2 separate regions of the Homo sapiens genome follow, and region 1 is linked to region 2. The links come from fine-mapping of genetic effects on gene expression. A gene starts in region 2. The other region holds a variant in brackets. All regions are shown on one strand. Distances are from middle to middle. Region 1 has its middle 41 kb from the start of PSMG3-AS1. Region 2 holds the start of PSMG3-AS1 (PSMG3 antisense RNA 1).

Region 1 (5,364 bases), 41 kb before region 2:
AGGCGTGAGCCACCGTGCCCAGCCTCTGATTAACTGTATAAAGTTTATAGGGATGGCCAAGCACAGTGGCTCACACCTATAATCCCAGCACTTTGGGAGGCCAAGGAAGGAGGATCACTTGAGCTCAGGAGTTCAAGACCAGCCCGGGCAACTGTGAGACCCCATCTCTATAAAAAAAAAAAAAAAAATAGCAGGGTGTGGTGGTATGCACCTGTGGTCCCAGCTACTCAGGAGGCTGAGGCAGGAGGATCACTTCAGCCCAGGAGGTTGAGGCTGCAGTGATCTACAAGCACGCCACTGCACTCCACATTGGGTAACAAAGAAAGACCCTGTCACACACACACAAAGTGTGTGTGACACTTCAAATGTCAGGCTTCAAATGTATCATGCACCAACAGCCACATGGGCCAACCTTTCTTTCTTTTCTTTTTCTTTTTCTTTTTTCTTTTTTTTTTTTTTTTTTTTGAGACAGAGTTTTGCTGCTCTGTGGCCCAGGCTGGAGTGCAGTGGCCTGATCTCAGCTCACTGCAACATCCGCCTCCCAAATTCAAGCAATTCTCGTGCCTTAGCCTCCCGAGTAGCTGCGACTACAGGCATGTGTCACCAAGCCCGGCTAATGTGTTGTATTTTAGTAGAGATGGGGTTTCACCACGTAGCCCAGGCTGGTGTTGAACTCCTGAGCTCAGGCAATCCACCGCCTTGGCCTCCCAAAGTTCTGGGATTACAGGTGTGAGCCGCCGCACCCAGCCCACATTGGCCCCCTTTCTGATACACACTAAACCTGTTCCTGCTCCAGGGCCTTTGCACTCTCTGTTCCCTCTGCCCGGAGCGTTCTTCCTCCACAACTACCTGTGGCCTCACTGACCGTCCTAGCTAATATCACCCCTCAAGCACCCCGCTCATAATCTTTTCTTTTTTCTTTTTCGAGACGGAGTCTTGCTCTGTTGCTCAGGCTGGAGTGCAGGTGCGCGATCTCGGCTCACTGCAACCTCCGCCTCCCGGATTCAAGAGATTCTCCTGCCTCATCCTCCTGAGTAGCTGGGATTACAGGCACATGCCACCATGCCCGGCTAATTTTTGTATTCTTAGTAGAGATGGGGTTTCACCATGTTGGCCAGACTGGTCTTGAACTCTTGACCTCGTGATCCACCCGCCTCAGCCTCCCAAAGTGCTGGGATTACAGGCATGCCTGCTCGTCATCTTTAGAGCACCTATCACTATCTGAATTATCTTTATTACTGGTTCCCTTGTTTATGGTCTGCCTCTCCCAGATAGATACAGAACAATGTCTGACACACAGCCCAGTCTTAGTGAACGTGAGATGAATGAATAAACCCCAGCCAGGCAGTTCTAATGGAAGCTGCCGTATGGACTCAGGGTGAGCAACTGACCAAGCCAGGCCATGCACAGTCCTTCCGTGGGGTTTTCCCAGCTGAGGCTAAAGAAAGACGCGCAGATCCCGCCCGGTGGCAGATGGCATGGCATGTGGCTCTGGAGCTCTCTGTCCCCCAGTAACCCCATCCCCACCCCCCAGGAGGAAGAGGCTGCCCGGCCAGAGGTAGATGTGCTGAGAGCAGCAGGGATGAGGCTGGAGACGTCCTGGGATCTCTGAGCCTTCCTTCTGTTGCAAAACCACAGAGTCCTGACTTCTAGGAAATTCCTTTCTTGCCTCAGCAAATTTGAGCCAGGTCTCTGTGACTCATTAGTAAAGGACCCTGATGGGCACAGATGGAACAAGAGGCCAAGGGAAGGGTGGGGCCTCTTTGTTATAAACGAGGTGCAGCTGGGCATTGTGGCTCACGCCTGTAATCCCAGCACTTTGGGAGGCCGAGGTAGGCGGATCGCTTGAGGTCAGGAGTTCAAGACCAGCCTGGCCAACATGGCAAAACCCCACCTCTGCTAAAAATACAAAAATTAGCCAGGCATGGTGGCGGATGCCAATAATCCCAGCTACTTGGGATACTCGGGAGGCTGAGGCAGGAGAATCGCTTGAACCCAGGAGGCGGAGGTTGCAGTGAGCCGAGATCACACCACTGCTCTCCAGCCTGGCAATAGAGCAAGACTCGGTCTCAAAATAAAAAAAAGGCACAAGTGAAATGGTCACTCAGCTGAGACAACAGAGATGGGAGTCTGATCTGCTTTAGGGTTGGATTAGACCAAGCTCTATGGGTCTCTTCCAGCCCCTGTGTATCCCAGGGGCTCCCCCACCTCTGTGGGCCTCTGTTTCTCCCATTATAAAATGATGGGGTAGACGAGATGGCCCCTGAGCCAAGTCTGGTCGAAATGTGGCATCCGAACTGACGCCCAGTAGATTTCTGACCAGTCTAGCCCATCACCCCACTGGAGGAGGGAGACACAGGCTGAGGACCACTGACCAGTCAGCCAGGAGACCTAGGCCCTGGGCACTGCTGGGCCGGTTCAATCCAGCGCCCTGCCTGGCAAAACCCCGCTACGACTCATCAACACGCAGCAACTCCCCCTGCCCCCAGCTCGGCAGCTCCAGTGTGGACAATCGGCAGAGCTGCTCAGGTGGATCTAAGACTCCCCTAATGAGATTCTTGACGATTGGGAAACTAATGATATGCTCAACTCATCTTTAATTGGCACGGTGCTGCTGGAGATGCCAGCGCGGGCGAGACGCGGGGCGGCTTTGACTCAAGCCATCATTATCGCTCCTTGGCGGCACTTGGTCCTCGCCCACCCTCAGAGCCATTGCCCCCGCCGCCCCGCTGCCCCCACCCCCCAGGCTGCGGTCTGCCAGCTGGGCCCTCAGTGGCTCCTTCTGTCTGGCCTGCAGGGGGGCCCCAGGCCTGTCCCCATGCAGATACCCCGCCCTGGGAGGCTGGTCACATTCTTGGGCGCTGAGAGGTCCCTCCCTCCCTCATCATCGGCGTTTCCCTCGCTGGGTGGGCCTCAGCCCTATGGAGGGGTCTCATGAATGGTGCAGGAAGCAGGAGGGGGGTGCTGACCGGTGCATGGGAACCTGCTTTCCTGGAGACCCATCTTAGCTCTTTCCATCCTCAGCTCCTGACCCCTTTCTCAGCCTCATTTTCCCCACGTGCAAAATGCAGATAACGTTAGCCCTTCCCCCGGGGGCTCACGAGTGGGCAGCCCGCACTGTGTGGTCAGACTCATGGGAAGACGAAAGGGTGCGGGAGAGGTCTGATGCCC[G/A]CTGCTCGCCACCTCCGGGGGTGTCCAGGCTGGGCACAGCAAGCTCTGTACGACCAGCCAGGGCAACCTGAGTCCAGTGACAGCCCAGTGCGTGGGGTCCACAAGGGAGACCCAGTGCCAGGCCGGCGTGGTGGGAAGAGGAGCTGCAAGTCATGCTGGGAGCCGGGGAAGGCAGACAGTGCCAGGCTGCAGACTCAGCCAAGGTCCAGCCAAGCCTGCTGCGCTGTGGCACCTGAGACACAGGTGCCCACCTTCTCCCCCTTGAAGCTCTCTTCCCGGAGCTCCCCAGCCCCCCGCTTCTCCTCCTGCCTCCTTGACTTCTCTCTCAGCCCCGATTGAGCCAGCCCGCAACTGTGGGGCTCCTAGAGGTTCACTTTGAGGCTCTCTTGCCCTCTCACTCACTCCCCCTCCCTAGGGGAGCTCACCTGTGACCTTACCTCGAATAACCACCCCCATGGATGGTCCCTAAATGTCTCTCTTTGGAGGCCAGCACCTCCAGACGCCCTGCAGGAACCGCTCCCCTTACTCAGTCTCCTACCACAGCGAATGACACCAACTGCCTAACCAGCTGATCAAAGCAGAACCCTGGAAATCATTTCTTTTTTTTCTTTCTTTCTTTCCTTTTATTTTTTTTGTTTTGAGATGGAGTCTCTCTGTGTTGCCCTGCCTGGAGTGCAGTGGCACAATCTCAGCTCACTGAAACCTCAAGCAGTTCTCCTGCCTCAACCTCCAGAATAGCTGGGATTACAGGTGCACGCCACCACACCCGGCTAAGTTTTGTATTTTTAGTAGAGACAGGATTTCACCATGTTGGTCAGGCTGGTCTCGAACTCCTGACCTCAGGTGATCCGCCCGTCTCGGCCTCTCAAAGTGCTGGGATTACAGGCGTGAGCCACCGCGCCCGGCCCTGGAAAGCATTTCTTGATCCCACCTTCTTTCTACATCTGGTCAATCACCAAATCCTGTCTATTTGACCTTCTAGATGTCTCTGGAAGTTCTTCACCAAGCTGTCTCCCCACTGCCCCCTATGCAGGCCCAAGCCTATCCCCGATGCACTGCCTGGACCAGTGGCTGCACAAAGCACGCCAGCCCATCACCTGCCCCAGCATCCCTGGTGCACTGTGGCCAGAGCCGAGCTGCCAGTCATGGAGCCGACCCCTCCCCAGCACGAGACCAGCTGACCCCCGGGCCATGCCGAGCAGCTCGGGCACATGACTCGGTCTTTCCTGGAAATTCTCTCCCAGACAGAATGATTGCTGTCACCCTTTGGGTCACAATGCTGGGAGGATGGGCGTTTAGAACATCTGGTGGCCACTGTCCCCAGCAGCAAGGAGGAAATCCATCCCCAGAAAGAGAGGGACCCAGAGAGGAGATCTCAGTGGTACCCTTGACCAGCCAAACCTGAAGGCCTGCGTTTCCCAGTTCTGTGAGCCGCTAAATTCCCTGCTATTTACTTCATCTTATTGGAGTTGGGCTCTTTCCGCTCATCTACAAGCCCTGAGGGACATGCTCTAAACATCAGCCTCCCCGCTGCAGGAATTAACCCCTTCAATCCAGCCCCTGAATTGGGTGGTCACTGAGATCGTCTAAAGGCCAAGTCTGCCCTCTGGCCCTGCCTGTAATCCCCCTCTCCAAGGCTCCCCAGTGCCCACAAGGTGAGATCCAGATCCCTTGGCGTGACTTCCAAGCCCCATCTGTCTCCAGCTCTCCAGTCGCATTGGTGCCCACTGTCCCCCTCGAGCTGAACACAGGTTCCTGTTGGACGGAAAGACCTGCAGCTCCCCAGGGGTGCTGGCCTTTGAACATGCTGCTCCATCAGCCGGGAACATTTCCACCACATCACACCTGCGAGGCCCAGCTCCCTCCTGGCCACTCCTGTCCAGCCTGCCCTGGGCCCCCAGGATGGGGAGATTATGAGGACTCCCATGCACCCCCAGAGACCCCTGGATCCCCCGTGGGAGGACTCTGCACCCCCAGAGCCCCCTGGATCCCCCGTGGGAGGACTCTGCACCTCTGGAGCCCCCGGGATCCCCCATGGGAGGACTCTGCACCCCCGGGGCCCCCAGGATCCCCCGTGGGAGGACTCTGCACCCCCGGAGCCCCCGGGATCGCCTGTGGTAGGACTCTGCACCCCCAGAGCCACACGGATCGCCTGTGGGAGGACTCATCGCTGCAGGATAAATGCATGCTGAC
Region 2 (5,364 bases):
ACAAGCTACAGGTCATAAAGACCTTACTGATAAAACAGTTTGCAGTAAAGAAGCTGACCAAAACCCACCAAACCAACATGGCGATGAGTGTGACCTCTGGTCGTCCCAGCTGCTACACTCCCACCAGCGCCGTAAGTTTACAAATGCCATAGCAATGCCAGGACGTTACCCTAAAGGGTTTAAAAAGGTAAGGCACGAATAATCCACCCCTTGTTTAGCATATCATCAAGAAATAACCACAAAAATGGGCAACCAGCAGCCCATGCTGCTCTGCCTATGGAGTAGCCATTCTTTATTCTGTTACTGGTGGAGGGTGTCCAGGTTCTTGGCATCTTGAACAAAGAATTGGACAAAATGCACAAAGCCACCGGGCGCGGTGGCTCACACCTATAATCCCAGCACTTTGGGAGGCCGAGGCGGGCAGATCACCTGAGGTCAGGAGTTCAAGACCAGCCTGGCCAACATGGCGAAACCTCGTCTCTACTAAAAACACAAAAGTTAGCCGGGCATGGTGACGCACGTCTGTAATCTCAGCTACTCAGGAGGCTGAGGCAGGAGAATTGCTTGAACCCGGGAGGCAGAGGTTGCAGTGAGGATCACGCCACTGCACTCCAGCATGGACAACAGAGACTCTGTCTCAAAAAAAAAAAAATGCACAAAGCAAAAAAAGAATGAAGCAACAAAAGCAGAAATTTTTTGAAAATGAAAGTACATTCCATGGTGTGGGGGCGGCCAAAGCATAGAGGCTCAGGGCCCCATTACAGAACTTGTGAGGTTTAAATACCCTCTAGGGGTTTCTACTGGTTACTTGGTGTACGCCCTATGTAAATAAAGAGGATGAAATAAAGTTACAAAATCATTTACTCAGTGTACACCCTATGGAGAGGGTATTTCCTGTCATAGCTGAAGTGTTCCCTGCCTCCAGACCCTGTTTTCCTGCCTCAATTCCTTTACTTTTCTAATAAACTTGCTTTCACTTTGTGGACTCGCCCTCAATTCTCTCTTGGGGTCTGGATCGGGACCCCTTTCTGGTAATATAGACAGAAAATACGGCCTTGACATGGTTGTCAGGAAACGACAGTAAGGCCTCCGAGGGTGGGGTTCTGAAGGGATGTTAAACGCCCCACCCCGAGGAAGGCTCTGGAGGCTCCAATCACTTTCAGCCTCTGCTACCAAGATGTCCGACCCTACCAATAAAACTTCCAGCAGCGGGGCGCGGTGGCTCACGCCTGTAATCCCAGCACTTTGGGAGGCCGAGGAAGGCAGATCACCTGAGGTCAGGAGTTCAAGACCAGCCTGACCGACATGGTGAAACCCCATCTCTACTAAAAATTTAAAAAGTTAGCCGGGCCTGGTGGCGCACGCCTGTAATCCCAGCTACACAGGAGGCTGAGGCAGGAGAATTGCTTGAACCAGGGAGGCGGAGGCTGCAGTGAGCCGAGATCGCGCCACTGCACTCCAGCCTGGGTGACACAGCAAGACTCCGTCTCAAACAAAACAAAACAAAAAACCTTCCAGCTTGGAGAAACTGAGAGTGAGCAGTAGGGAGTGAGGGGGTCCCTGGGAGGAACCAGAACTCATCCCGCTTCAGGGTGGGGCTGGCCCCCTTCTTGGCCTTGGCCGGGGCTTCGTGTCACGGAGCGCCCGAGGGACGGTCGGAGCCCACCCCAGCCCGCCCGCCGCCTGAGCCTGGCCGAGCTCTCTGCACCTGCACACGTCTGTAAAACGCGGATGAAACGCTTCTACGGAACCGGGTGGCTGAGATGAAGTGAGTTATGGGTATAAAGCGCTTAGAGCGATGCCTGGCGGACACTCGGTGCCAAATAAGCGTTCGCTGTGGCGACGATGACGCCTCCAGCCCAAAGCCCGTGGTCGAGCAGGGCCGGGCTCCCAGCGCTAGGGGGTTCCTAGGCGCGGCGCTTCGGGGGTCCTGGACACAGACACGGGGGACAGAGCTCCTACCAGCGACGATCCCGAGGGTCTGCAGCAGAGGGGCTGAGGCCCGGGACGGGGGTGGTCGCAGCGCCCTTTCCTGAAAAAACGGGGTTCGGCTCTAAGGCGCCCCCAAGCCCTGCCGGCAGCGCGGAACCCGAGCCGCTCAGAAGCCCGGGAGCCCCAAGTCTCCGGGACCAGAAGCGCCGCGGCCCTGACTTCCGGAAGGTGGACGGAACCCGCGGACGGGGCGGGCCCGCGTGGCGCACGCAGAGCCACTTCCGGGCGCGGCGCCGGCTTGGTGAGCGCGGGTACCCGCGGGCTTCCCCGGGCGGCTGCGTCCCCAGTAGCCCGGCCGGCCTCGGCACCGCGTGTCGTGGGGGTCCCGGGCCGCGGCTGCAGGGCCGGGGCGGCGGCGAGGCCGAGGGGCGGGAAGCCACTGCCCGGCCTGGCAGTGTGAACGTGCAAGTCGATCCCCTAACCCAGAAAGCCCCAGGCGCGGTCTCTATGGGCGGCCCCGCTCCTGCTTCTGTTTTATTTTTTTACGGACAGGGTCTCGCTCTACCGCCCGGGTTGTAATGCAATGGTGTGATCACGGCTCACCGCAGCCTCGACCTCCCGGGCTGAAGCGATCTTCCCGCCTCAGCCTCCTGAGTAACTGGGACCACAGGCGCGCCCTGCTGGTTTTTTTTTTTTTTTTTTTTGGTAGAGATGGGGGTCTCGCTATGTTGGCCAGGCTGGTCTCGAATTCCTGGCCTCAACGATCGTCCTGTCTCGGCCTCCCAAAGTGCCGGGATGACAGGCATGAGCCACCGCGCCTGGCCCCTTCTTTTGAATGGGCCTCCTTGCGTTTCCGTTTCAATGCCCCGTGCTACTTTTTTGGGAGCCCCAAGGCTGTACTGTTTGATTGACTCCTTTTTTTCCCCTTTCTTTTTAACCTAAATTAAAGCTGCCACTGCAGAGCCCCGCCATGGAAGACACGCCGTTGGTGATATCGAAGCAGAAGACGGAGGTGGTGTGCGGGGTCCCCACCCAGGTGGTGTGTACGGCCTTCAGCAGTCACATCCTGGTGGTGGTGACCCAGTTTGGGAAGATGGGCACCCTGGTCTCCCTGGAGCCCAGCAGCGTGGCCAGTGACGTCAGCAAGCCTGTGCTCACCACAAAAGTCCTTCTGGGGCAGGATGAGGTAAAGTGGATTGGCCGGGAACTGTGGCTCACGCCTGTAACCCTAGCACTTTCAGAGGCCTAGGCGGGCAGATCGCTTGAGGCCAGGAGTTTGAAACCAGCCTGGGCAACACAACAACACACACACAAGTCACTACAAAAAAACAAGTGCCTACACAAAATATATATATAGAGAGAGGCTGGGTGCAGTGGCTCACACCTGTAATCCCAGCACTTTGGGAGGCTGAGGCGGGCAGATCACTTAAGGTCAGAAGTTCCAGACCAGCCTGGCCAACATGGGGAAACCCCATTTCTACGAAAAATATAAAAATTAGCTGGGTGTGGTGGCACATGCCTGTAATCTCAGCTACTCAGGAGGCTGAGGCAGAAGAATCGCTTGAACCCGAGAGGCGGAGGTTGCAGTGAGCTAAGATCGTGCCACAGCACTCCAGCCTGGGTAACAGATAGAGACTTGGTCTTAAAAAAAAAAGGAAAAGAAAAGGAAACAAAAAATTAGCTGGGCCTAGTGGTGTGTGCCTGTGCTCCCAGCTACTTGGGAGGCTGAGGTGGGAGGATGGCTTGAGCCCTGGAGGTTGAGGCTGCAGTGAGCCATGATTGTGCCACTGCGCTCCAGCCTGGGTGAGAGAGCAAGACTCTGTCTTTAATAATAATAATAATAATAATAATAATAAAGTGGTCAGGAAGGGACCCCCAGGGAGGAGCATAAACCTCTCCAGTGGCTGTGATTTGTCAGTAAGGACATGGGGCATCTGGCGGACAAATACCCCTACAGCGATAGCATTTTCCGGGCATTTGTGGGTCTCAAGGCGCCCTGCTTGCCCTCAGTGGATGCTTTGTCCAGCCCGCAGGCATTTTATCCAGCAGACAAGCAGAAGCAGCAGTTTTGTCATTCGAGCCGCCTCCCCTGCCATGGTACATTACGTGAGCAGGCGGCTGGCTGTGCTGTGCTCTGTGGAGATCACACGTGAGATTCGACAGCACTCGCTTCTGCAGGCTTCTCTTTCCTGGGTTCTTTTAGATGAGAGAGAGCCAGAAGAGGCGGGGCTGCGGAAGGCGCTGGGAAAATGAATGGAGTGATGGTCTTTAGCAGTGTGCCCGTGACTGGAGTGTTCTGAGTGCTGCCAGAACTCTGAGTCACAGTTGCATGGACTTATGTGGCGGTTAATGGTGGTGTGGGAAGCCTGCCTGGGTTCCTAAGGGATACTTCATGAAAGCATTGAGGAAAAAACCAGGTTTCTTGCAGTTAAAATGGTTTCTTCTCCTTCCTTTACCAGCCTCTCATCCATGTCTTTGCAAAGAACCTGGTAGCGTTTGTGTCTCAAGAAGCTGGAAACAGAGCAGTCCTCCTCGCCGTGGCCGTGAAGGACAAAAGCATGGAGGGGCTGAAGGCGCTGAGGGAGGTGATCCGGGTGTGCCAGGTGTGGTGACCTGGAGGCAGCCGCCCCGCGCTGCTCAGCAGGACACGTGAACACCCAGACACCCACTCAGGGACTCAAGTCTCACCTCCCTCCCCGGTGGAGGGAGGAACTTTGGCACTAGCCCTTGGAGCCAGGAAAAAAGACTCGTGTCTCAGGCAGACTCTTACTCTGGTTACTAAGATCATCTGTGCATGACGGGGAGGGTGGAACAGGTCCCGGAGGAGTCGTGAATGGTTCTCACCAGGACCTGAATCGTTGCTTGTGTTTGAGAATTGGAGGAATGAGTCAGCAGGCGTGGCTCATGGCCCCCCCGTGTGCAGGATCAATTGTAGGAGGAAATTTCTTTTTTATTAAAAGCGAATGTGTATCCCAAAATACTTCACTGTCCTCCTTAACAGTAGCGAGACATTGCAGCCGCACAGCATGAGTTCAGTTTCATGGGCTTCATGAAGGGAAGCTTGTTGGGCAGAAACGCAGAGGGACGTAGTTCCCAGGAACTGGGTGGATCCCATGCTTGGGCCTGTGCACGCTGTCACCCAGCTCCAACTCCAGTAACTTCTCTGAGCCTGCTGGGAAGCTGGTGGCCGTCAGCGGACATCTCTTACTATCTTAATGTGTGTGCCCGTTACCGTGCTGCAGCTGGGGACAGACGCTGTCCTCTGAATCCTGCATAGCAAGGGAGGGGGGACGCTTCTGTCAAGGGAGCAGCGTGCACAGAGGTCAGGAGAGAGGAGCACGGGAGGGCAGGGCACTGTGGGGTGGGTCGCCAGGGTTCACTGGGGTGTGGCTGAACATGACCTCCGTGTGGGGGTAGGCGCGGGTCCTTCTG

The links.
Region 1: its variant is fine-mapped to the expression of PSMG3-AS1 in whole blood (INTERVAL, PIP 0.99).

Annotation. Positions count from the first base shown.
Region 1 is chr7:1,608,141-1,613,504 of GRCh38, reverse strand. No RefSeq gene overlaps it. Among named protein-coding and RNA genes, the nearest start is that of PSMG3-AS1, 41 kb to the right of the region's middle. RefSeq lists enhancers at 3,890-4,421, 4,422-4,954, 4,955-5,364. The variant G/A (reference allele first, on the strand shown) is at 3,172.
Region 2 is chr7:1,566,878-1,572,241 of GRCh38, reverse strand. PSMG3-AS1 (PSMG3 antisense RNA 1) reads right to left here and starts at 2,169. Exons shown (of 5, transcript NR_027329.1): 1 at 1,963-2,169. PSMG3 (proteasome assembly chaperone 3) reads left to right here and starts at 2,210. Exons shown (of 2, transcript NM_032302.4): 1 at 2,210-3,118; 2 at 4,392-4,910. The coding sequence starts at 2,903. The coding sequence ends at 4,544. RefSeq lists enhancers at 1,159-1,208, 1,219-1,288, 1,912-2,480, 4,187-4,755, 4,635-4,929 and 1 more and silencers at 1,589-1,668, 2,109-2,538.